4 linked regions of the Homo sapiens genome follow. The protein of the gene in region 1 interacts with the protein of each later gene in a pairwise test. Each region holds a gene or a part of one and is shown on either strand. Other genes may lie near its edges. The genes, in order: PLEKHG7, GSN, APBB2 and AGXT.

Region 1 (4,002 bases):
TGCATAAACTTACTAAATTTATGTAAAATTGTATAAAATAGAATTAGAAGTCACTAAGTTCTTTCTGTGTAGAAGTAATAAATTTATTGTAACACAATGCAGTTGTGTATATGACATTCTGTAATTCCTTGAACTGGATCATATATTCATAAGTTCTGTAGATACTTATGCATGAACATTTTCTCATTTAGTTTTTGGGTTCATTATTTGTATTGTGTTTACTACTTGTGATCATGTAGTTGTGCCTTACTTTGTGAGAAAGGTTAGCTCAGTAAATACTGCAATTTCTAAACTCAGTGATTGGAAGGTTATTAATTATAAATGTAACTGATAAAGTACGTGACAGCATTTAAATCTGTATAAAGAACAATGGAAGGATCCTTATTGAATTGTTGCTTTTTTTTAATATGTTTAAATATTATATTAAAAACATTTCTTTCTAAACTAGTTGTATTCTGTGACTATAAATTGTTTTGTCTAACAAAAGAGAGAACACTGTATTAACCATTTTGCATTAATTTATTTACAGAATATTAGGACTTTGCACTTGGATATAGACAGTGGTGTTTTAATGTTGTTCAATTTCGAATAGTAATTAAATTCCTGATCTCAAGAGAAATTATTAATGCCATTTTGCCTTAGACATTCCATTTAATATTGTAGAGAATTAACAAAACTAAAAACAAATATAAAAAATATGTAATTAACCCCTTATTTCATTGTGTGTCTGCATTTAATACCCAGATGACCATTTAAAGATACTTAAAACATTATTTATTTATTTATTTATTTATTTTTCTCCCTCCCCTCCCCAAAGATACTTTTTGGAAGGCCCAATGTGCCATTGTTTTTTGCTATTTTTTCTTCCTGGGAGCCACGGTTCTAGAATGGTTTTTGTTCTGACCCCCGTGATCCCTTCATTCGAATGTGCTTCATTCTAAACCCTCCAAAGAGTTTAATGTGCATATCCTCAAACATCTAATATATTGTATATTAGACATGTTACTTTGTGAGCTTTATAGAATTCCAGTTTATGTACAGCATATTCTTGAGCTGTTTTATATATTTTGTTAATTTAGTCAGTCTGTCTCTCCCTTTAATGAGATTCAGAGGGAGAAAACTACCTTTATACATGTAAGTCTGTGGTTGCTGGATTCATGGGACTAAAGGAATTTGAGAGGCCACCTCATCCTAGTCCACTGCTCACCTCCGAGGTTAGTTTATATCTAAACATTTGCAAGATGATTGTTAATGTAAAAATTTTTTTTAACCAGAAATTTCTTTATAAAATCTTCTCTTGCATAATCTATATTGTATTCTCCTGGACATAACTGCTTTCAGTCCCATCCAGATGCCATCTCTAGGAATTCACTTGAAGCTTGAAGTCTATTCTCCCCTTTTTCTCCCCTCCACCTCATTTATTCTTAGCTATTAACAATAGTTACTGTCCTCCAGATTTTCCTTTTTTTCTTCTATTAAATTTCTGACATTATTATAAAGAGGTTATTAGTCTCCATTCTAATAGTGCTTGCCTTGTACAAAAGCCTTTCTGCTGCACTTGTCTTTACTGCTTTGTTTGCATAGTGAAATTTCACCTTCCTCAAGGAATTACTGGGCACATGACTTGCCCAAACATTATCCTCTCTACCCCATTCTTCAGCTTAACAAAATCAGCTAAGGCTTCAGTTGTCTTGCAGCCAAATTTGATAAATTTACTACTTTCACTTTGCAAATTGCAAAAGGTACGATTCTGAAATGGAAGTTTGTGGACTTCCCTTTGATGCAATAATCTGACCCTAAGAACTAGTTCCTTGAATGTAGTTAATAGTATATATCCTGCCATGATAATAATTATTCAAACTGCCTTTCATGATAAAAATTCTGAAGAAATTTGAAGTCCTGCCAAATAAAATTAAGTGACTGTACTGTGCTAACACACACACACACACACACACACACCAATCAAAACCAGAAAGTATTTTTATGGCAAACACCATCATTCTTCAAAAAATAAAGTTAAGAGACAGATACCTTACTATGTCTATGAAAATCTGTACACTTCACAACAGGCCAAGAAAAGCCATGCAAAAGTGTTAACTGGTGAAAGCCAGATTTTTTTTTTCTTCCTATCTTAAAGTAATGGAATTTAGTCTTTGGGATTTTCTACTTCCACGTTAGAGTACTATATACCTGAGATGAGTTTGAGAATAGGAATTTTAAAACTGCTACTTAAATGTAGTCCCTATTTATTGCTTTGTATATTAAAAGAACAATCAAGCTTTGTATCTAAAGATTTATCATTATGTTTGAGGTAGGACTATAAAGCGGTTAAGACTGATTGACAGGCCATGAAGGAAAATTGGTTTCATTATTTTATGGATACAGAGTAAGATGCTGGAGTTCATATTGGACATAAGCAGTGGACATTGTTTTCCTTCTGATACTCCATTTATCTGATCATTCACCCTTTACAAATTAGCACCTTTCTTCACTCACACCTCTTACAAACCTGACGGAAGCATTAGAAGGTAATCTGGATGTCAGTATATATTTGTCAAGAAATTCCTCAGAGTTCAAATTTGTTGCAGTCATTATTCCTCTATACTGAGGATTTTCCTAGCTCAAAATTTCAAATTCTGAAACTTCTTTAAAATGCAAATTTCCTTCTAGCTTATCACTAGCTAAGTGTTACAAAACTTTGAATGAAATTATACCTTAAACCATAATCTTCTAAAAAGACATGCCACTTGTTTTAGGTCCCTAAATTTCAGAGGATTCTGCGGGCAATGTGAATAAAGATATTTTCTTGGTTTCCTGACTCTTGGTAAAGCAAGAAATTGCAGTTGTTATTTGTGCCATCCATGTTTTCTGTTGAAAAAAAGAAAAAAATACATAAATAGAGATTAGAATGTTAAGCTGACAATTTCTCACATATTTGGGCTAATATTTTCTGCTATATTTATTGACCAGCTCTTTAAAACTGAAGACTAATGAAACATTTGCATATGTTTCCCATTTTCTTTCTTACATCTAATATAAATACTTCTAATCTTACAGGAAAATGCAGATGGGCTAAATGAGTATGGTATGCATGTTGGATAACAGTTATGAGTAATCAAGAAACAATAGTCAATGATAACTCATTAGAAAAATGAGCACTGAGAATATATGTAGTTTGAAAGTGGCATTGCTGGAATTTCTATTCTCTGTGGAAACAAGTTCTTAACCTGTAGTATAACTTGAAAGAGACTGAGGGCAGTGACCCAGGAAATTGAATATTGCATTTGTTGTCTGGCCACATTGTAGATATGATGAAAGCCTACCAGGGGAAATACAAAAATAGAAACTTCTAAGACAGAGAAACCAGAGTCAGGCAGCTGCTCTTTCAACTCCATAGCTGTAAAAACAATGGCAGTTTTTCAAAGGTTGACAAGCTGACTTGACAGGGATCATTATTGCGCCAGGCCCTCCTTAAGCTAATATCCTATTATATGCACTTTGGAAACTGATTGGAGCATCTTAAAGGTTCATCATGCAATCCAAATCAATTCTTCCCCCATTTCCTACAGAAACTGTAGAACGCAGGCAGTTCTTGAGCTTCTGCAGGAGAACTCTGCAAGCGTGAGGAAATTGTTCCTCAACCCCGCAAGTGTGAGGAAATTGTTCCTCAACCCCACAAGTGTGAGGAAATTGTCAATACTGAGGCTTTTGAGCATTATATGGACTAGATGTACCCCTCCCCTCCTCCCAAATCTGCCCTTCCCAAGTGGGTGAGAGAAAAACACAAAACTTTCCATTCACTGTTACTTAAGACACTTGGGGGGAGCTTATGTAAACTCTGAAGAATCAAAGACCTACAAAATTAAAATACATACTTTGATGTTTTCCGTTTGGGCTTGTAATAAGAATGCTGCTATACACTGTCGATATCTGTTTTCGTGTTGTATAAGAAAAGCATTTCTCAGCCCAAAGACTAGAAAAAGATATTACAAAGACAAAAAG
Region 2 (6,216 bases), on another chromosome or scaffold:
CTCGCTCTGTCACCCAGGCTGGAGTGCAATGGTGCAATCTCAGCTCACTGCAACATCCGCCTCCTGGGTTCAAGAGATTCTCCTGTCTCAGCCTCCCGAGTAGGTGGGATTACAGGCATGTGCCACCACGCCTGGCTAATTTTTTATTTTTAGTAGAGGCAGGCTTTCACCATGTTGGCCAGGCTGGTCTCGAACTCCTGATCTCAGGTGATCTGCCTGCCTCGGTCTCCCAAAGTGTCGGGATTACATGTGTGAGCCACCGTACCCGGCCCCTCCTTATTTCCTTTAGCATAGGTATCCCCCAGGACAATCTACACACCTCTCAACTCACTGTGGCATCGCCTCTCAGGGCACCAGGATTCACGCACAGGGTGGATGTAGCCTTTCTACTAGTTTACAGGCAAATGCTAGGCACCTCTCTGGCCATTCTCAGAATTACCAGGGACACAGGCAGAGAAGACGCCGGCTCTCACTGTCAGATGGGCACAAGGAAACGAGCCACACTAGAGTACACACTTCAAAATGTTTTTATTGGATTTAATTTCCCAAACACTGACATTTTAGACAATTTTGCAAGGACTCTGAATTTTTGCAGGGCTATTTTTGGATACTGTAAAAAAAAAAAAAAGAAACAACACACACACACACACACACTCATAGCAGAGCTGCTCTGCTCGCTCTAAGGCCTCTTTGAGGGAAGGACAGTTCCAAAAGGCACTGACCGGTGACATGGGTGGGCCCTGCCCCTCCTCAGGCAGCCAGCTCAGCCATGGCCCTGTCCAAGGGGTCCACAGACCAGTAATCATCATCCCAGCCAAGGAACCAGCCCACAAAGGAGGGAGGCTCAAAGCCTTGCTTCACCACGGTGATGGGCGTCCGCCGATCCCGATTGGCTGGGTCCGTCTCGATGTACCGCTTAGCTGCAGACACACGTGCAAGAAAAGGAAACCCCAGGAATTCTTAGTGCCTCCCACACCAGGGAGAGGGTGACTCAGGACAGGAGTTGACAAAGAAGAGGGTCTATGGTCCTACTGTCCCTACTGCCCACCCCCTGCCCTGGGCACCATCCTCCTTTAAAGGCATGATACCCACGTGGGCTCTCCACCACCCTGCTCAGGAACACAGGAAGGAACAGGGCTACGGCTTAATCTCCTGCTTCATAAAGCTTATTACTTTCCCTTGCAGTCCCCTACTGGAAGATATGGGAACCAACTTTTGGGTTCCCAGCTCACAAATCAGATCTATTCAGCTGCCAAGAATCTGCTTTGCAACATCTTTTTCTTTTTTTTTTTCATTTTGAGACACCATCTCATTCTGTCACCCAGGCTACAGTATAGTGGTGCGATCATGGCTCACAGCAGCCGTGAACTCCTGGGCTCAAGCAATCCTCTGACCTCAACCTCCTGAGTAGCTGGGACCACGGGTGTACACCAACACGCCTGGCTAATTTTTTTGTATTTTTTCTAGAGATGAGGTTTCACTATGTTGCCCGGGCTGCTTTCAAACTCCTGGGCTCAAGTGATCCTCCTGCCTTGGCCTCCCAAAATGCTGGGATTACATGCATGAGTCACCATGCCTGGCCTGCTTTGCCACATCTAAACCTTGACAAGTTCAGCTTCTGAGTATTCTGGGAACTTGAAGTGACTTCTCATCTGTCCCTTCCTTCTCCTGGAACAGAGGAGAGCCTTCTTTGAGAAGCCTCAGGGTTTCTGAAGGAACTGATGTGTTCTTCACTATCCCAGGCAGGATTTATGAGGGGCTGGCCCACAGAGGAGGAAGTCCCCACCCTATCTTGTCCATCAGTCCCCTGGAAAGATGCTCATTCCCAGACCTGTACAGGAGCCACTCCCAGCACCCCACAAGCAACGGACCCCTCCCCCCGCCCCCAGGCACTCGGGTCCTCACCAGAAGTCAAGGCTTCTGTCTTTTCTTCTTCTTGAGAATCCTTTCCAACCCAGACAAAGACCTGGAGGTGAGATGCAACAGGAAAGGTACATGAGGAGTGCTGATCAAATTCACGGCTGGAGGAAGACTGGGGAGGGGCCAGGTATCAGACCAGACAAAGCCCTCCCCTTTCTAACAGAGCCCATGAACTAAGACTGGAAGGATTTGGAACAGAGGTTGAAAACTGGCAACCTACAAACATGTTTTGTTTGCTCACCCACCACCTTGTGTTAGCCAACAATGTCTTTTTAAACCGTTATGACATAAAAATCTAGATTTCCAACTTCTCTTTAAAAATTGGAGGATCTAGCAGCCTGGGCCTTCAAACCTCACTTGAGTCAAGCTGCGCAGGAGCTGCCCCTTTGAGATGAGCAGTTCTAGTTTGCCTCAGACTCCACTGCTCCTTCACGTCTCCCCAGCCCAGCCTGCTTCATTCGCTAACATTGCCAACCAGGTACCATCAGGCATTGAGTTTGAGATTCTTCTCTAAAGGTCCATGAGTTATCTCTTGAACAGCATTCACTCGTTCAACAAATGAGTGGCCAAACATATTCTCACCCATTTATTTATCCAACAAATATGCACCGAGAGTCTACTATGTGCCGGTCTGTGTGCATCTTTGTCAAAATGGGCCTAAGGCTTGGAATAAAAATAACTCACCCACCACTATCACCATTTTGAGTCTTGTTACAAGTTCTATTACACATTATTTAGCTGATTTTTATGTATCATCTATTTTTATGCATATCTAAAATATTACTTCAAAGAGCACCTATCATTGATAAAATGGCATTAGACAATAAAATGTCAGACTTCATTTTTCTCACTTTTTTTTGAGACGGAGTCTCACTCTGTCACCCAGGCTGGAGTGCAGTGGCATGATCTCAGCTCACTGCAACCTCCGCCTCCTGGGTTCAAGTGATTCTTCTGCCTCGACCTCCCAAGTAGGTGGGATTATAAGCACCCACCACCAAGCCTGGCTAATTGTTTTGTATTTTTAGTAGAGATGGGGTTTCACCATGTTGGCCAGGCTGGTCTTGAACTCCTGACCTCAAGTGATCTGCCCACCTCAGCCTCTCAAAGTGCTGGGTTTACAAGTGTGAGCCAACATGTCTGGCCCTCTCTTACTTATTTATAAATGTGTTCCCAACTAAAGTGGAAGCCCCTCGAAGGCAGGCATTCTATTTTGCTCATCATAGGATTCTCAGCACTCAGCATTTTGCCTGCAAGACCATGGTGCTGAATAAATGTTGGCTGACTGAATCCCTAACAGATGAACAAACAGATTAAGTAGCCAATGGATCAATCAATGACAACTGCTGAATGGCTCAAGCTGCAATCATTTTTGGTCCCGATCTTCCAACTGGGGATTCCGAGCATCCCTGTGGGTAGTGTAGAGTCTTATGCCTTCGTGGCCAGCTGCTCCGTAACTCTGAGGACTCTGGGAGAAGCCACCTTGATAGGAAAGGTGACTGACCTGACACCCCTGTGAGAACGTAAGCCCTGGGAGAGCAGGAAAATGCCTACTTTATTCATTGCTCTATCCCAGCATCTCAAACATAAAGCACCTGGCACAAAGCAGTGCCCAATTAATATTGGTTGAGTAAGTGAATGGCATCTTCCCCTGCCAAGTCCTACATAATGGCCTTCTCTAGGAGATGAAGTGGAGACAGAGCCCAGAGCCCTCAAACCAGAAGCAGGAGCCCTCTAGAGCCTCTAGGTGACACTGGACAGTTTATGCCTGCAAACAAGATGCTGCTAAGTTCAACTTCCTCTGCCAACAGATTTAAAGGAAGAGTTCACGCTCCTGCAAGGTCTGGGAGAGAATGATGAAGGTCATGTGATTTGCCTTTATAGGGCGTTTTGCAGCTTTCAAGGTGAGTGTATCTGCAAGGGAGGTACCGCCACTCCCAGTTTACAGATGAGGAAATGGAAGCTCAGAAAGAAGAAGTGACTTCCAGTACCCTTAGAGACTTTTCTGGCAACACCTGGCACTGCCCCCTTTAGGTCCTTCTAGCAACTGATCATAGAACTGGAAGTCTAGTTTCTCCCACTCCCTCTGGCACAGAGAGCCTTCACCTGTCCTTCACCCACCTGGTCCCAGGTGTCCAGAAGCATGACGTCATCCGTTGCCAGGTCTTCCTGCATGAGCTCACCAGGAACCTCTTCGATCTGGGAAGGAACGAAAGAGCATCAGTGAGATGTCTTCCCTCCCCTGGGTGGCCTTCCTTTATCTGCCCCCTGAGGGAGTGGCACAGCTGGCTGCAGCTGGCAGGGGGCCCCTTCCTCTGTGCCACACCATCAGAACTGTTTCTCCTGCCCCTGCTGCCGGCCAGTCCTGTGGAACTCGCCTCCCGAGGGGAAAGCAGAGGTGTGACCTCCGCAGGGGCTCACCACAAAACGTCCAATCTTGTTGGAGCAGGCAAAGAGGCGAGGAGGATGGGCATCCATCTTCTTGTCCTTCAGCCGTGGGGATGTGCGGTAGGCAGCCTTCCCGCCCAGGGCCTCCCAGAAGCCATCTGTGAGGGGAGGCCACGCCAGTTGCCAAGGGACGCCATCACCCCTCTCTCCCATCTCATCGGACCCTGGGACCAGCCCTGCCCAAGCGCAACCAACTGCTCTCCCTCTCCTCCCTCCATCCTAAAAATCCCAGGAGATCCAGAGGGAAGAGGCCTGAGGGAATTGGAAGGTGACGAAATAGAGGCCCAGAGAGGGCAGACTTGGCAGTAGTCACACAGCCAGGACCACTATTGGCTTGAGGCTGACGACAGCATTGCGGGATGAGGACCATTAGCTCCACTCAGCTAATGAGGCAGTTGTGGCTCGGAGAGGTTAAGCAACTCACTCAAGGTCACACAGATGGTAAGTGTTAAGACCAGGATACAAATCTTGTCTGATTCTAACACCTATACTCTTTCCACTATACCTGCTCTGTCCATGTGCAGCCATTTAAATTTAAATTCATTAAAATTAAATTCGACTAAAAGTTCAGTTCTTCATTCCCACTAATTCCCACTGGTCGCATTTCAAGTGCTCAACAGCCACATGTGACTAATGGCTGTCAAATTGGACTCGGCAGATACAGAACATGTCCATCTGCATAGAAGGTTCTGCTGGACAGAGCTGCTTTAGACCAAGTCACTCTTCACCATTTCTGTTAAGCATCAAGCAGGTGGGAATGAACTCAAAGTAACAGTATAAAGACTGCAGGCTGGCAGAAGGAAGAGCTGCCCGGCCCACATTCTGGAAACAGAGCAGGCTGGTGGCATTTCTGTCCATGGAGAGTCTAGAGATGCAAGGAGACCACTGCTCCTCTGACGCTATCAGCCCTGCCTACCACCTTTCAAGGCTTCCTAGCGAGGGACCGCCTCCTTCCACAGACCAACTGCTCCTTCCCACACTGGGCTCTCCTTTCTTTCTTTCTTTCTTCTTTTTGAGACAGAGTTTTACTCCTGTTGCCCAGGCTGGAGTGCAATAGCGTGATCTCAGCTCACCGCAACCTCCAACTCTCGGGTTGAAGTGATTCTCCTGCCTCAGCCTCCCGAGTAGCTGGGATTATACAGGCATGTGCCACCATGCCCGGCTAATTTTGTATTTTAGTAGAGATGGGGTTTCTCCATGTTGGTCAGGCTAGTCTTGAACTCCCGACCTCAGGTGATCCGCCCGCCTTAGCCTCCCAAAGTGCTGGGATTACAGGCATGAACCACCACGCCCAGGCTAGGCTCTCCTTTCTTTAGCTCCTGGAGACCTCCCTCTCTCTGGCCACAGCCCTCATTTTAATGCAACTGCTTTTATTTAACATACATTAGGGGACAGGCCCTCAGGTGGGATGGAGGGGAGGATTTAGAGCCCCCAAGCTGAAGGAAAGAAGGGGGAAACTTAATAGCTGCATCCGGACAGCAGCAGGCCCCCCACCCCGGCTCCTACCTGGCTCGCTGCCTTCTGCCACCTGCACAGGTTGGGCCCGCAGCACCCTGAGCAGCTCCTGGGCCCCCGTCTTCTCTGCCTCGCTGGCTCCTGTACCCACCCACAGGTAGGCGGCTGAGGGGGTTTTCAGAACAAAGGCATCGTTGGAGTTCAGTGCACCAGCCTTAGGCAATACCTGGGAGGGTACAGCTTGGTTAATCAGGAACCAGACAAAAAGCCCTCAGCCCCCTCCTCACAGCCCAGGAGACCCCGCAGCAGGACTAGCTCTCAGGTGGGGACTTGGAGGAACACAGCCCATCAGAGCTGAGGGCACAGACTTTGGACCCTGATGGCCTTGGTTGACTC
Region 3 (7,035 bases), on another chromosome or scaffold:
CATTTTCCACAAAAGAAAACCTAGCTGGGCATGGTGGTGCTCCCCTGCCGTTCCAGGGAGGAGTTCAAGACCAACCTGGGGAATATAGCAAGATCCCATCTCTTAAAAAAAATAAAATAAAATAAAAATAAAGAATAAAAAAGGGGCAGGCCTCTCCTGTCCTGAAATAAACACATGAACAAACCCTCCAATGCTGCCCTTCAAGCTCCCCCTCACTGGCAAACTTTGTAAGTTATCTGCTTTTAGGGCCTCCACTTCTTTTTCTTCCCAGTTACTTCTCAATCCAGCACAGTCTCATACTTATTTTTCTTATTTATTTTTTTGAGACAGGGTCTCGCTCTGTCACCCAGGCTGGACTACAGTGGTGCCATCGTAGCTCACTGCACCTCGACCTCCTGGGTTTGAGCCATCCTCCCACCTTAGCCTCCTCAGAAGCTGGGACTACAGGCATGTGCCACCACGCCCGGCTGAAAGTGAAGATCCTCATACTTTTATTTACAGCACTTTCTACACTGTAACAGAGTTTAGGTTTCTGTGTCTCCCCCACTATACCTGAGCTCTACAATGCAAGGACTGTATCTCAGTCATGCTGAATGCCCCAGATTCCAGCCCGTAAGTGCGAGGCTGAATTAAATGAAGCCCAGGGGCTTCACATGCAGCAGTTCTCCCCCAGCCAGGCAGCTCGGTGCTTCTCAAAGCCTCTGCTCCTGTTTGTTCCCAACGCTGCTCTCCTAGCGTGGACGCTCCTCCTCTCTCCCATCTGCAGAAGGTAACTGGGCTCCTGGCTGATCGCCACCTCAGCCTTGTTCCTCCAACCTATCCTCTACTTGGTTGTCTTCTTTTTTTGCTGGATACTCGTCTAAAATCTAAATACAGGCTGGGTGCGGTGGCTCATGCCGGTAATCCCAGCACTTGGGAGGCTGAGGCGGGTGGATTACCTGAGGTCAGGAGTTTGAGACCAGCCTGGCCAACATGATGAAGCCCCATCTCTACTAAAAATATAAAAAATTAGCCAGGCGTGGTGGCAGGTGCCTGTAATCCCAGCTATTTGGGAGGCTGAGGCAAGAGAATCACTTAAACCCAGGAGGCGAAGGTTGCAGTGAGCTGAGATCGCGCCATTGCACTCCAGCCTGGGCAACAAAAGCAAAACTTCATCTCAATAAATAAATAAATAAATAATCTAAATACAATCAATTCAATCCCCAGTTTAGCAATCCTTGCTGAAGAAAATCAGGCCCCCACACGCCATCATCATAAGCCCGCCATGATCTGGACCGCACCTCCTTCCACTCGGGCCCAGCACCCAACCTGCTGCTGCTGGAACACACCTGCCCACAGGCTTTGGTGCCCACACTCATATAGCTCCCTCATTTTTTTTTGAGATGGGTTTCCCTCTTGTTGCCCAGGCTGGAGTGCAATGACGCGATCTCGGTTCACTGCAACCTCTGCCTCTCAGGTTCAAGTGATTCTCCTGCCTCAGCCTCCCGAGTAGCTGGGATTACAGGGATGCGCCACCACGCTGGCTAATTTTGTATTTTTAGTAGAGACAGGGCTTCTCCATTTGGTCAGGCTGGTCTTGAACTTCTGACCTCAAGTGATCCGCCTGCCTCAGCCTCCCAGAGTGTTGGGATTACAGGCGTAAGCCACCACCCCCGGCCCAGTTCCCTCATTTTTATTAGAACTTTTGCAGTGTCTGGCATAAGAGGGGCACAAAGACACATGCTGAAGGAATAATGAGGGATTCTTGTTTGTTTCCAAGTATCCATGTGGTATAAAGAGCTCTGACTTTGTCACCTGGCAGCTTGGGGCTGAATCCAGGCTCGGCTCTGTCACTTACCGACAAGCCCTGAGGCCCATTCTCTAACTTCCCTAAAGTCTCTATTTTCTCATAAATAAAACAGAACTAACAACTACCTAACAGAGTTGTCGGAAGGACTGAGTTAACAGATATAAATAAAATATATAAGAACGGTGTACAGAAACCAATCACTGGAAACAAAAGTCATTCAATGTATTGATTTTTAAAGTACTGAATTGAACCCAAACAGTACCAACTCATACACGACCAACATTTCACACATGAAATTGATTTGGGATCAAGGATTGACCGTCGTCAAGGTGGTGGTTATGAAACTCATCGGAGCCTCTATCTGGCCCCACTTCTTTCAGGAGTTCTGGCCTTTGGAGATGTAATCTGTTTATCATAACTGATTCTGGCCCTAGGAATGACGGCGTTATAAAGTAAAGCATTACTTTAGGGATTCGACTTTTTTCATTTCCGTGAGTGATTCTGCTATAATGTATGGCATATTAGAGATGAGCAGAGGCGGGAGGGCTCAACAGCCTGTACCGGGATAACTCACCATGCAGGCGGCCTGCACCGCCTCAGACACGTTACCAGCATTAGGCTCGCACCAGAAAACGTGGCACTCAAAGCGCTGGTTCCCCGTGTCCATGATGAAGGCAAATGTGTGGACGTCCTTCCCAACACCCATGAAGGACAGGAATCGCACACGACATTCCACTAAGACTTCCTCTTCATTCTGCAAGAGACATTATGCGGCATCCAATCAGGAGATCCCAGGATCAAGCTTAAGAGTGGCAGCACATAGGAACTGGCATTCAGAAAGTATAGCCAGGCCGAATTCAGAAAGGACCTGTGTTTTTCTCGAAAGGCGGAACCTTGCCCAAATGTCTGAAGAGGCCATCACTGCATGGCTACCCTGTTCTGGAGGTCATTCTTGCTCTGAACTACACTGCTGTCATGGGGTGTGATGTGGGTCCCATTCTCCATTATGCTACGTGGCTGTGAGTTCACTGTGGGGAGGGACAGTGCCGTCCATACTTCTTACATCTAGCCCAAATACAGGACACCTGGTGGCCCAAAACCCATTTGGCCAAGTAAACCCCCAGAGCACCAGAAAAAAGGGATTCACGGTATCTTTCTTCGTCCAGTGATTCTTACCCAAACTAAACAGCACACTGAATCACATTTCCATCTAAAACCATATAAAACAAAAAGCTGCCAAATCAACAAAAAGTTGTCAAATTGTTTTTTTCTTTTCTCTCTTGCAAACTGGTGTCCATCTGGGATCCACATGAGGCAGCGTAAAGAAATGTTCAGAATTCTTTCTCATAGGGATGAACACCACATCCTTTGCAAGAACCATATGCAAGTTTTGAATTAATAAACACATCCAAAATGTTGACTTTTGGATCATTAACATCTTGACTAATTAAATATTCACTCTAGTGCCTTGGGAGTGTTTAATGAGCAAAGTACACTAGTGTGAGAGGTCGGGAAGTTTTCTCAGGAGGAAGGAGGCTGTGGTGGTGATCTGGGTAAGGGTCGGGTAGGCAGAGGGTGGAGCATGGAGGGTGCAGTGCTTGCGATGATGCTGGTGTGGGGAAGGGCGGGACCTACTTGAAGAGGTGAGGAGAGCTCAGTGTGGCCAGCTGGAGGCAGGCAGTGAGCACCCTGCTCCTCTCTCCAGGGTGAACCGGGCAGCTGTGGGGCAGGCTGATGACTGGTGGTCTTTCCCTGGCAGGTGCTTCACAGAGGCAGAATAGAAAAGTGGGCACAAGTCTGGGCCAGGTTGCCTGGATTTAAGTCCTGATTCCATTGCTTCCAACTGTGTGATGCTGGGCAAATGACTTAGCCTCTCTGTGCTTCAATTTCTTCAACCACGAAACTGAGATAATTTGGGCTGAGGCTAATGTGGCCTCTTCTCAAGACAACCAATAGCTCCTTCTGCTACTGATAGTCACAGGACTCTCCCAAATGGAAGCATCTTCTGCTTTTCATCCCCAGATCACACAGCCCAGGCAATACTGGCGCCCTGAGAGTGAGCGACTACTAGCGTCACACACTCACCTCTAGCAAACAATTTCTCTCTGGGGCACATGAGGAAGACAGAATCAGAAGCACCAGAAGAGAAGTTTCTCAGGCCACAGGAAAACAGAGGTATGCACAGATTTAGACCCAGACAAAGGGCCAAATCTTTCAAATGTAGGCCATCTTAATCACAAGGATGCACAACTCCGGCCTTGACTATGTTCCTAAGTTCCACAGAAAACCACTGTATCTTATACTCACTGTATAAGACACACCAATGTCATCGAAGATTCCTTCTCACCTTTTCACTGATGACAGTCACAGTGGCATCAGCCACGTTCATGTTCACTGACAGCCAGTCCTCCTTGTTGGATGAGGTCATAAGATTTTCTATGGCACTGTTCAAAATATCCATTCCTGGGGACAGAAAAGGATAATTTAAAGTGTCCTAAAGCCACTTACCACACTCAAATGTGGGCCCAAATCACCAATAACAGCTACGCCCAGACTGATCTTTTTTTAATAGACAGGACACTTCATTCTCATGTTTGCTCAACAGGAATGAAATACCAGCTTCTGGCCGGGCGTAGTGGCTCACGCCTGTAATCTCAGCACTTTGGGAGGCTGAGCCAGGATCATTTGAGGTCAGGAGTTCGAGACCAGCCTGGCCAACACGGTGAAACCCTGTCTCTACTAAAAATACAAAAATTAGCTGGACATGCTTGCTTGAACCCAGGAGGCGGAGGCTGCAGTGAGCTGAGATCGCACCACTGCACTCCAGCCTGGGCAAGTATCAGTGAGACTCTGTCTCAAAAAACAAAAAAAGAAAAAGAAAAAAAAGAAATAACAGCCTTTTCAGTAGGAGAGGAGAGTCAGGAGAAGCTCCGGGGACCTGGTGCCTTAGACGCTGTCTACCTATGCAGACCATGGCCCTTCAGCCTCTCTCCACCCTCACTGTCTCTTGATGGCACCTTTACAGTGGATCCCCCCATTGAGTAGGGCCCTTTTGCCAGCTGTTTCCACAGTTTTTCTGGGGGATAGGGGTGGGAGTGACAGCTTTATTGAGGTATCATTCACATGCAATTCACTCACGTAAAGTGTGCAATCCAGTGGATTTTAGTACATTCACAGAGCGCACCCATCACCATCATCAATTTTTTTTTGAGACAGGGTGTTGCTCTGTCACCCAGGCTGGAGTGCAGTGGTACAATCACGGCTCACTGTAGCCTCAGCCTCCCAGGCTCAGATGATCCTCCCACCTCGGCCTCTGGAGTAGCTGGGACTACAGGTACATGCCACCATGCCCAGCTAATTTTTTGAATTTTTTTTGTAGAGATGAGGTTTTGCCATGTTGCCTGGGCTGGTCTTGAACTTCTGGGCTCAAGCAATCCACCTGCCTTGGCTTCCCAAAGTGCTGAGATTACAGGTGTGAGCCACCATGCTAGACCTACCATAATCAATTTTAGAACAGTTTCATCACCCCAAAGAGAAACCCCGTGCCTGGTAGGGGTCATTCTGCATTTTTCCCCCACTCCCCAGACCCCTAGACCAAGGCAACCCTTACCTACTTTCTGACGCTAGAGCTCTGCCTATTTTGGGCGTTTCATATGAACGTAATCACACAGTATGCAGTCTTTTGGGACTGACTTCCCTCATAGCATGTTTTCAGGCTTCATCCACGCTACAGCGCACTTCAGTCCTTCATTCCTTTTTATTGCCAAATAAAATTCCACTGTATGGAAGTATCACATCTTATTTATCTAATTGTCAGTTGATTTGTCAGGACATTCAGGTTGTTTCGCTTTTTGACTCTCATCAATAATTCTGCTGTGAACATTTGCATACACGTTTTTGCATGCACAAACGTTTTCACTTCTCTTGGGTCTACGCCTAGGAACTGAGTTGCTGGGTCTAAAGTAACTATGTTTCACCTTCTGAAGAATGCCAGACTGTTTTCCAAAGCAGCTGCACCATCTTACAGCCCCCTTGGCAGTATATGTAGCTTGCGATTTCTCCACAGCCTTTTTTAGCCCTGGTGAAGGCTTCATCTCCCAGTCTCTTTTTGGCTTGGTATAGCCCAGCAACTACACTCTGCCCCTGGCATGTGAGCTGAATGCTGTGTGTGCCACTACTGTGTCACTCCTTGACAGCATGAAGCCTCCACAGTCCTTTCTCCTGGCCCGCCAGCTGACAAGACACGAAGCAGGTGCCCTGGCCTCAGAGATGGAGGCCTCGTTTCAGAGCAGCGGAGCTCTTCCACGGCCCTGAGTCACACAGCTCTGGACTACTGGGTAAACAAGAAATCCACGTCTGTATTGCTAAAGTCCTGCATGCTGGGGATGACAGGTCAAAGCAGCGGGGCCTGTCCCTCTACTCATCTTTTGATCAGGACCGTTTATGTTCTCTGGCAGGTGACAGTGTGACAGTTTGATTCAAGACAAGGCGTGAGAGTAAACAGCAGACCTCACCCTCCTCGGAGGGCGAACGCCTCCTGTGAGCTCCCGCACACTTGCAAAGTGGAAAGACAATAAACATTTCACATACCGACTGGTTTGTCTACAGGTAACATGCCCAAGTACTGCACGTGGAACTTCTGGACCAGCTCAGTCTTTGGTGTTGGAAAATCTACTACAGGGAACAAAAGCAACACATCTTTCTCAGTGGTTCCAACACACATGTACACAACAGCCGTGGCTCTGCATCATCTGAATGCTCAGGACACGCCCTGTGCCATAACGCCCTATGTTTCTGGATGTAAATGTAACAACTATTCTACAAGAGCAGCATTACTCCAGATATTGGGGCTCTGTTAAAATCCTGTTCAACTTTCAAGATAGGAATGCATGTGAAAGCAGGAAGTGGCATCTATGTGTTAAAGCTGCTACTGTCTCTTTGATGTATATTAAGTAAAGTAGCAGCTTTTGGTGTCCTATTTAATTAGGTGTGGTTGATGCCCAGAGAAAATGTAACCTCAAAGGGCACAATCAGAGACATAGGAAGATAACTGAGTTCCCCCAGTAATCAACCCACGTTTTTTTTTTTTTAGAGACAAGAGTCTCGCTCTGTTGCCCAGGCTGGAGTGCAGTGGTGCGATCTTGGCTCGCTGCAACCTCCATCTCCTGGGTTCTAGCAATTCTACAGGTGCATGCTGCCATACCTGGCTAATTTTTTGTATTTTAGTAGAGACAGGGTTTCACCAT
Region 4 (7,912 bases), on another chromosome or scaffold:
GGGATGAGGGAGGCTGGAGGAGGGAAGTGGAGGGCATCAGGCAGCTTTAGTGTCCTGGCAATCTCGGGGTGAGGTGGGGACAGGCCCTGGCAAGATATGGAAGTCTGCACCAAGCCCTCTTCAGCCCTGGGGACAGAGGTCAGTGGGCACTATGGGGGCGCTCGGCCAGGGAGCACCTGAGCCTGCCCTGGGACCTGGGGTTGTCTTTAGACTCAGCCCAGAGCAAAGAGGACCTGGGAGGTGCCTGCACCCCATACCATGTGACAGAGGCTGGGGTGGGGACCAGGGGCAGAAGGACCAGAGGGACCAGTGCCCACCCCTCCCCATAGCCTGGCTCTGAGCTGTGCTCCAGTCCACCGCCCTGGGGCCAGGCTCACCTGTGGCAGAGTTCCCCGAAGCCATCAAGGGGCTGCAGCACGCCGGTGGACGACTCCCCGTGGGTTAAGAACAGCAGCACTGGCTTGTGCTGGGCCAGGCCCTGAGGAAGCAGGGACGGCTGTGGGTGGAGCTCAGAGGGGCAGGGGCCAGAACACCCCCACAAACCCCCCATGGGTGGCACAGCTCCAGGTAGCAGGGGCTGGGCCTGCCTCTACTCCTCCCTGATGGTGTGCATGGGAGGAGGAGGCTGGGGCATCTCCGCTCCGGGACAAGGGCTTTTCCAAGAACAGGACTTTGGTGCAGAGATGGAGGAGGGTGCCCCCAGCCTGTTGCCTGGCCTGTGAGGGCTGTTGCTAGATGGACTGAGTCCCCACACTCCGGGTAGGCTGAGGTTGACTTCAGCCCACAGGGTGGGGTATCCTGAGTGTCAGGGACATGTTCTGCAGCCTAGACTCCAACTCGGCCTCCTGCCTCCAGCCTCTCTGGCCCTGCCTACAGGACCAGGCTCCTGACTCAGTTTCCCTGCCAGACAGAAGCCTCCTTACCAGTCTTCCCACCATTCCCAGGTAATGGAACCCTCCCCTGTGGCCGCTCACCAGATGCTAGGATGGGCTGAGGGTCAGCCACCAGCCTCCCGGCCATGATCCCACCCTGCTGGCTGGCCAATTCCAGGCAGCCCCTGAGCCAGCATGCCCACTCCCACCTCCTCCCGGCCCTGACCCCCACCCCGGGTCCCCTACCTCCTCCACCTCCTGCAGTGTGTAGTGGCCTCCAGGGTCCTTGGTCATCGGGTGCACTCGGGCTCCTGGGTGCAGGACAGAGTGGGCCGTGAGTGTCCCGCACACACTGTAGAAGCCAGTGTTGGGCACCCGTGGCCCTGCTGAGCAGGGCCCTGTGAGGGCTGGACCCCACCCACCGTGGCACCCTGGCTGCCTGCCTGAAGAGGAGGGTGGACTCTGCCCAATGAGAGCCTCTCTGTGTGTAGAGCCAGGGCCATCTTGACCCCCCTGCTGTTGGAGCCAACGCTCCTGGGGCACTCTTGACAGAGCTCAGCTCAAATGCCCTTTCTCAGGCCACACTGACCAGTGCCTCCCCAAGCAGAGAGTGAGCTCCCGGGAGTCAGGGCTGCACCTGGCCCAGGGCTGGCACAAAGAGTGTACCTGGTCCAGGGCTGGCACACCACAGGTGTGATGGATGACAGACTGAAGGATGAGGGGTGAGTGAGGCAGCAGCCTTGACCTCTGTTGGAGCTGGGGACTCCAGGAATCAGGCCCTCACCCCCTCCCTGTCTCTGCCCTATCCTGTGTGCTGTTCAGGGCCAGGTTGTGGGAGGGGAAGAACCTGCGGCCAAGGGGACAGAATGGGGAAAAGGGAAGCCATATACCACAGGCATCTGAGCCTGCGTGCCCTGATGTCCACTTGGGGTCCTGGCCTCTGCCGACCCTGGGTCCCCTTGAAAAGTTTGTGGACTTGGGGTTGGGACCCTCTTGGCTGTTGCGGTCGCGTATTAACCAGCATGGCCATTGTGGAGCTCACCAAGCTGATGTCCCTCAATGCCACAATCAATCATTAAACCCAGGGCACACTCCTGCTCCTGTGTCTCTCCCAGAAAAGTGTACTCCGGAGGCGAATACTCTGCCCATACCTCCATATTTTGTGTATCACATCAAGATTCCAGAAGGAAGGCTGCTGAGATTTGAGGGGAGGCTTCAGCTTCTGAAACCCCACCCTGTCACAAAGCAGAGCTGGTGCCTGGGGCCCTGGACAGCGGCCGGGGCTCTCAGGAGTGTGTGCTGGGACCAGAGGCTTCCCTGTAGTTCCGTCCTGCACATGCTCCAGAAACAGCTCAAGGAGACTGGGGGGATCGGGGCACCTGTGCTGCTCCCAGCCCTATCAGAGTCAGGCCTCATGAGTGCCCGACACCGCCTGGAGGAGGCAGTGGGCTGGCAGGAGGTTCGTGCGCACAGGGCCACAAGGTGGGTAAGCGCTCACCCAGGAACGGGGGCTGCCAGCTTCAAACAGAGGGAGGCCAGGGAGGCCTTGAAGGATGGATCCAGGGCCATCCCCACCTGGGCCTCTCCCTTACCTATGCGCTCCCCGATGTCCACGGCTCGCTGCCCCCAAATGCCATTGGCCCCAACCAGGAAGGAGTCCCCAGGCTCCAGCACATTGACCAGGGCGGCCTCCAGGGCACAGTGTCCCGAGCCAGAGATGACCAGTGTGAGTGGGTTCCTGGTCTGGAACACGTACTGGATGCCTTCCTTGATCTCGTCCATGATCTGCATGCGGGTGGTATAGGGTGAGACCCAGGCTCCCCGCCTCCCCAAGTGAGGAGGCAGTGACCCCCTTCCCTCGTCCACGATCTGTGGGTGGGAACATGGGTGAGACCCAGGCCCCCCGAGTGACCCCCACTCCTACCTGGTACATATCCTTGCTCATGGACCCGATCATCTGCAGCCCCCCGGCTGCCATGATGCGAGGAGGCAGGTTGGAAGGACCAGGCCCCAGCAGGAGCTGGTTGGGGATGGAGAGGGGCTTGAGCAGGGCCTTGGGGGGGGTCACCAGCAGCTTGTGAGAGGCCATGGTCCGCACCCAACCTGCCGCTCGGGAACCTGGGGCTGCACTGGCCTTGGCCAAAGCCTGGAATATTTCCCAGCAGGGCGGACACAGAGGTGAGAGGTGAGGATTGGTGGATGGGCTTCCGTGGCAGCCCTGCCTTTTGTTCCCTGAGGCTTATCTGTGCTTGTGCTGCGGGTCACGGCCAGGCAGCAGGGGACGAAGCCCTCAGGCAGAGGGAGCCCCCAGGGCTGAGTGACAGAAAAACAGAGTGTGACAAAGCTGTCCTCACCCCAGCCCTCCTCGCTCCCACTCTGAGTCCTGCACGTCCAGCCCCTCTTATTCTGCTTAGCTCAGGGGTGAGAGAAGTGTTTCTTAAAGGGTCGGAGCACAGATAATTGAGGCTTGGCAGGCCCTGTGGTCTATGTTGCAACAACTCAACCCTGCTGCGTGCTTGCAAAGCAGCTGCCAGAGGTGTGGGCGTGTTCCTATAAAACTTTATTTACAAAAAGCAGGTGGCAGGCCAGATTGGGCCCATGGACTGTGGTTTGCTGACCCTGGCGCAGCTGATGGGAAGGCTTGTAAACCAAAAATAAAATTCGAAGGCCCCCCAGCAACCATCTGAATGGGGTTCCCTGTCCGCCAGGGTGCTCTAAACTTTAACCCGGAAGACGTTCAGGCCATGCCACATCATAACCCCCAGCATTAACATCGACATAGACCTTAAGTCTGATAGGAAGCATTTACCATCTATTTTCTCTCTAAATCCCGCTACCTGAAGGCATCATCTGCTCCCTGCAACCCCTATTTCATAACCCAGACACTCCTTTCTGCTGATAATAATTCTTCAGTCAGTTGCCAATCAAAATATGTTTAAATCTACCTATGACCTGGAAGCCCCCCAATTCAAGTTGTCCCGCCCTTCCAGATGGAACCAATGTAAATCTCCCATGTATTGATTGATGCCTCATATCTCCCTAAAATGTATAAAAGCAAGCTGTGCCCCGACCACCTTGGGCCCTTGTGGTCAGGGGTGCACCCTTGAGCTTGGCAAGGATGTCCTCCCTCCTGAGGCTGTACCACGGGTGCATCCTTAGCCTTGGCAACAAAAACTTTCTAAATTAATTGAGACCTGTTTGAGGTACTTTTTGGTTTACAGGCTCAATTTAGCAAGCAAACCTGCATGGTATACAGACACACACAAGGCAGGGGTTGCACAGTGAGTTTCAGCATGCTGCATTCCAGAGATGTATAGAAATTCTAGTTATGTATAAGTTTTAGGTTGAAAAGAGGCCTGGAACCAGGTGCCAACTTTAGATAATAGGGAAGTCTAATTCATTCTACATTTCTCAAATAAAGAGGCTCCCCTCCACCCACCCCACCTGGGGCCTGCTTGATGGTCTCCAGGTGATCTTTGCTGTCCTCATTTTCCCTCTGACAAATATCTTGGTGAAATCTTTGACCCTTCCTTTTCTGCCATGCTCATGTCCACCTGCTTCCTGTTGGGGTCTCAAGAAAGGGGAAACGGCACAGTGAAGAGGGGTGTCCAGTGCGCCTGACTACTTGCTGCTGAAAGGGAGTTCAGGGGGGTAGGTCACGTTTTTCCCTTTCTTGCTCTCGGTCATGAAGGGAATAAAGGGTCATGAAAACTTGTGCACGGAGGCACGTGATGGGATTCCATCAAGAAGCCCCACGTAAATGGGAGCTGCAGTTGCAGGCCGGTATTTCCATCAAGAAGCCCCATGTAAATCGAGCTGCAGTTGCAGGCCAGTGTTGGGAATGCATAGCCTTCTGCAGGTGGAATTGTTCTCATGTAGAACATAGAAAAGCAATCAGAGCATTAAAAAGGCAGGGACCAAATATTAAAAGAAAAATGACAGAAGATAAAGGTCTAAGGAATGGGGGAAGCCAAGTGATTTTTTGAAAACCAATCAGTAAAAGTTTTGGCCCAGTCTTGGTTGCTTTGGGAAAGTGTGTGTAGCCATTTGGCTTGTTTGATGATTTCTTGGGCATCGGTTTCCACTTCTCCAGACACATAAATGTAGGTGCAACGGGTCCTGTTGATGACAGCACAGACCCCTCCTTGTTCAGCTAGGAGGTAATCCAGAACTCACCTGTTACCAGACACCAAAATCCTGCTTGTGAGTCTAATGACTTGTAGAGCTGATAGATGGGTGCCAGCTTTTGCTATTTCAAGGGAGGCGGTAGGTTCTCTTACTTGTGATTTCCTGGTAAGTAAAACCTCCCCAAGGGGTAAGAGTTGTGATAGTTCCCACAACTCCGGCCACAGTAAGTCCCAGGGCCCTTTTCCTTCTAGAAGGGAATTCTGAATTAGAAGTGATGTTTAAGACAGTGATTTGGGTGGGAGCTATTGTTCCCAGGCTACAATCACCATAGTGAAGAGAATGATCAAGGTGGGATAGGGCCAAAGCTTGAAAAGGGTTTAAATAGTTTTTAGTGGGGCTGCTAAGCCATAAGAGCCCAGGAGGGGCAGGATGATTATTTTAATTAAAATGTTGGGAAAAAAGGAAATGGGCCTTTTGACAGTTTTAAGAGGACTCATATGGGGGAAAGACTATGTTTATGTACTGATGGAGGAGGTTTAAAAGCAGGCGGGTGCCAGTGCATGGCATAGGATGTAAACCAGGTGGCACGGTGGTTATTTCCTGCACTGGTTGCATCATTATAGTAACATACATGAAGGTATTAGGAGTGCAGGGGTGCTGTATACTGGGAGCCCCACTATACTGGTCCAGTTTAACGGCTTATAAATTGGCAGTGATGAGATAGAGTCAGATTTTTTTTTTTTTTTTTTTTGAGATGGAGTCTCACTCAGTTGCCCAGGCTGGAGTGAAGTGGTGTGACCTTGGCTCACTGCAACCTCTGCTCCTGGGTTCAAGCGATTCTCCTGCCTCAGCCTCCTGAGTAGCTGGGATTACAGGCACCTGCCACCACGCCCTGCTAATTTTTGTATTTTTAGTAGAGACAGGGTTTCACCATGTTGGTCAGACTGGTCTCGAACTCCTGACCTCAGGTGATCCACCCACCTCTACCTCCCAAAGTGTTAGGATTACAGGTGTGAGCCAGCGCACCTGGCCAGAGTCAGAGTTTTGATTGTAGGAGGCGAAGGCCTCAAATGAGTCAAAGTTAGCTGCATGAGTGTCATTATAACAAGGTGTACCTCCCAAAATAACATTACAAGTTAAGGAAGTTTCAGTGATATTGTAAGTGTGGATGGTGGGGGAAGTAATATGATAGCACGAAGAGGGAGGTGGTTTCCAATTTACCAGCACAGAAGGAAATGGTCGGGGTGGGAAGGAGTGGTGAGAAGAATAATGAAATCCCAACAGTACAGTTTGATTGGAGACAGGGTGTGCTTACGAAGAAGAATCTACATGGCTTGGAGTAGCAGGTTGTGGACGGCAAAGCCAGCCACACAGAGTATTTTCTCCTCTCACAATAGCATGTGAGATGCTGAAGATGATATTGTCAAACCAAGAGGATTGGGAAGTTTTTATATGAGAGATAAAGAGAAAAACATGAAAGAAAGAAAAAAGGAGTCTCATTGTTCTAATTCAAGGACTGTTACAAAAGTTGCTCCAAGTATAATTAGAAAAACCACCCTGCAAATAAAAATCTAGTGCAAGCTGAATAATTGTATGTGGGTCTTGAGAAATGGGGATTGGATAAAGAGACAGTAAATTGGCTGGGTGTGGTGGCTCATGCCTGTAATTCCAGCACTTTGGGAGGCTGAGACGGGCGGATCACCTGAGGTCAGAAGTGTGAGAACAGCCTGGCCAACATGGTGAAACCCTGTCTCTACTAAAAATACAAAAAAAAAAAAAAAAAAAAAAAAATAGCCGGGCATGGTGGTGCATGCCTGTAATCCCAGCTACTCAGGAGGTTGAGGCGGGAGAATCACTTGAACCCGGGAGATGGCGGTTGCAGTGAGCCGAGATCGCACCATTGCACTATAGCCTGGGTGACAAGAGCAAAACTCTGTCTCAAAAAAAAAAAAAAAAAAAAAGTAAGTGAATTGAGGATAATCTCAGAAAATTGGAGGACCTAAAAACGCTTCTAGAGTACATAAGGAAATGAATGACAAGGGAGGGAAAGGAAAGTGAATGATAAACACAGCAAAAGGCTTACGTGGTATCCTTTGCTTTTGAAGAGAGGTTAGTGTCACCTGGTTGTTTGCAAAACAAAAATCATAGATCTTCCAAGGGCTCAAAGTGTAAGCAGGCTGGAGTTCTGGCGGCAGTACAGACTTTATGTGGCAAAGGTGGACCCAAGGGGAGAATCCCTGCAGTTAACAGCTGTGGGAGAGGCTATGAGGACTTGAAAGGGTCCAGTCCAGAGGGCTGGAAGGGGTTTTCTGTCTGGAGGCAAAGTTTTTAAATATACCCAGTCCCCAGGTTAACAGGAGGTCTTAGTTCTGATGAGGAGGGGTCAGATTTTGGACAAAATTTATCCTGGTATTCAGTAGTGGCCTGGATAGTTTGCCCAGGGAGGCATCACATTGAGACAGATAATGAGCCTCTGGATCAAGTAATAAGTCCGTTTGTAAAAAGGGGCATCCATAAATAATTTCAAAAGGGCTAAGGTGGGTTGAAACCTTTGGGAATTACTCTAGATCTTAACAGGGCAATAGGAAGAAAAGTTATCCAAAACAGTTGAGTTTCTATAGAGAGCTTAGTGAGAAGGGTTTTCAAAGCTAGCTTGGCCCTTGGATGACTGTGGGTGGTAAGCAGCATGTAAGTGATATTTTATTTGGAGGGCCTCACTGATTCCTGGAGTAATAGAAGAAATAAAGGCCAGGCCATTGTCTGATTGGAGGGATTGAGGGACCCCAAATCGAGGAATAATGTGTTCTAAAAGAGCCGTAGTTACTTCTGATGCTCTTTCTGTTCGAGTGGGAAGGCTTTAGTCCAGCTTGTGAAAGTGTCTATAAAGACTAAAAGGTATCTGAATCCCTTAT

What was found.
Region 2: the proteins of PLEKHG7 (region 1) and GSN interact in binary tests that used the Homo sapiens proteins (3 or more experiments, as listed by UniProt).
Region 3: the proteins of PLEKHG7 (region 1) and APBB2 interact in binary tests that used the Homo sapiens proteins (3 or more experiments, as listed by UniProt).
Region 4: the proteins of PLEKHG7 (region 1) and AGXT interact in binary tests that used the Homo sapiens proteins (3 or more experiments, as listed by UniProt).

The regions. Positions count from the first base shown.
Region 1 is NC_000012.12:92,768,954-92,772,955, reverse strand, and holds the end of PLEKHG7 (pleckstrin homology domain-containing family G member 7), read right to left. Parts: intron 3,974-4,002; coding exon 3,876-3,973; intron 2,869-3,875; coding exon 2,761-2,868; 3' UTR 501-2,760; downstream 1-500.
Region 2 is NC_000009.12:121,327,138-121,333,353, reverse strand, and holds the end of GSN (gelsolin), read right to left. Parts: intron 6,047-6,216; coding exon 5,872-6,046; intron 4,464-5,871; coding exon 4,339-4,463; intron 4,117-4,338; coding exon 4,039-4,116; intron 1,967-4,038; coding exon 1,906-1,966; intron 921-1,905; coding exon 751-920; 3' UTR 512-750; downstream 1-511. UniProt on the Homo sapiens protein: Calcium-regulated, actin-modulating protein that binds to the plus (or barbed) ends of actin monomers or filaments, preventing monomer exchange (end-blocking or capping).
Region 3 is NC_000004.12:40,819,508-40,826,542, forward strand, and holds part of APBB2 (amyloid beta precursor protein binding family B member 2), read right to left. Parts: intron 6,464-7,035; coding exon 6,380-6,463; intron 4,253-6,379; coding exon 4,137-4,252; intron 2,544-4,136; coding exon 2,364-2,543; intron 1-2,363. UniProt on the Homo sapiens protein: Plays a role in the maintenance of lens transparency, and may also play a role in muscle cell strength. Involved in hippocampal neurite branching and neuromuscular junction formation, as a result plays a role in spatial memory functioning.
Region 4 is NC_000002.12:240,863,915-240,871,826, reverse strand, and holds the start of AGXT (alanine--glyoxylate aminotransferase), read right to left. Parts: upstream 3,004-7,912; 5' UTR 2,962-3,003; coding exon 2,797-2,961; intron 2,658-2,796; coding exon 2,465-2,657; intron 1,184-2,464; coding exon 1,119-1,183; intron 479-1,118; coding exon 378-478; intron 1-377. UniProt on the Homo sapiens protein: Peroxisomal aminotransferase that catalyzes the transamination of glyoxylate to glycine and contributes to the glyoxylate detoxification.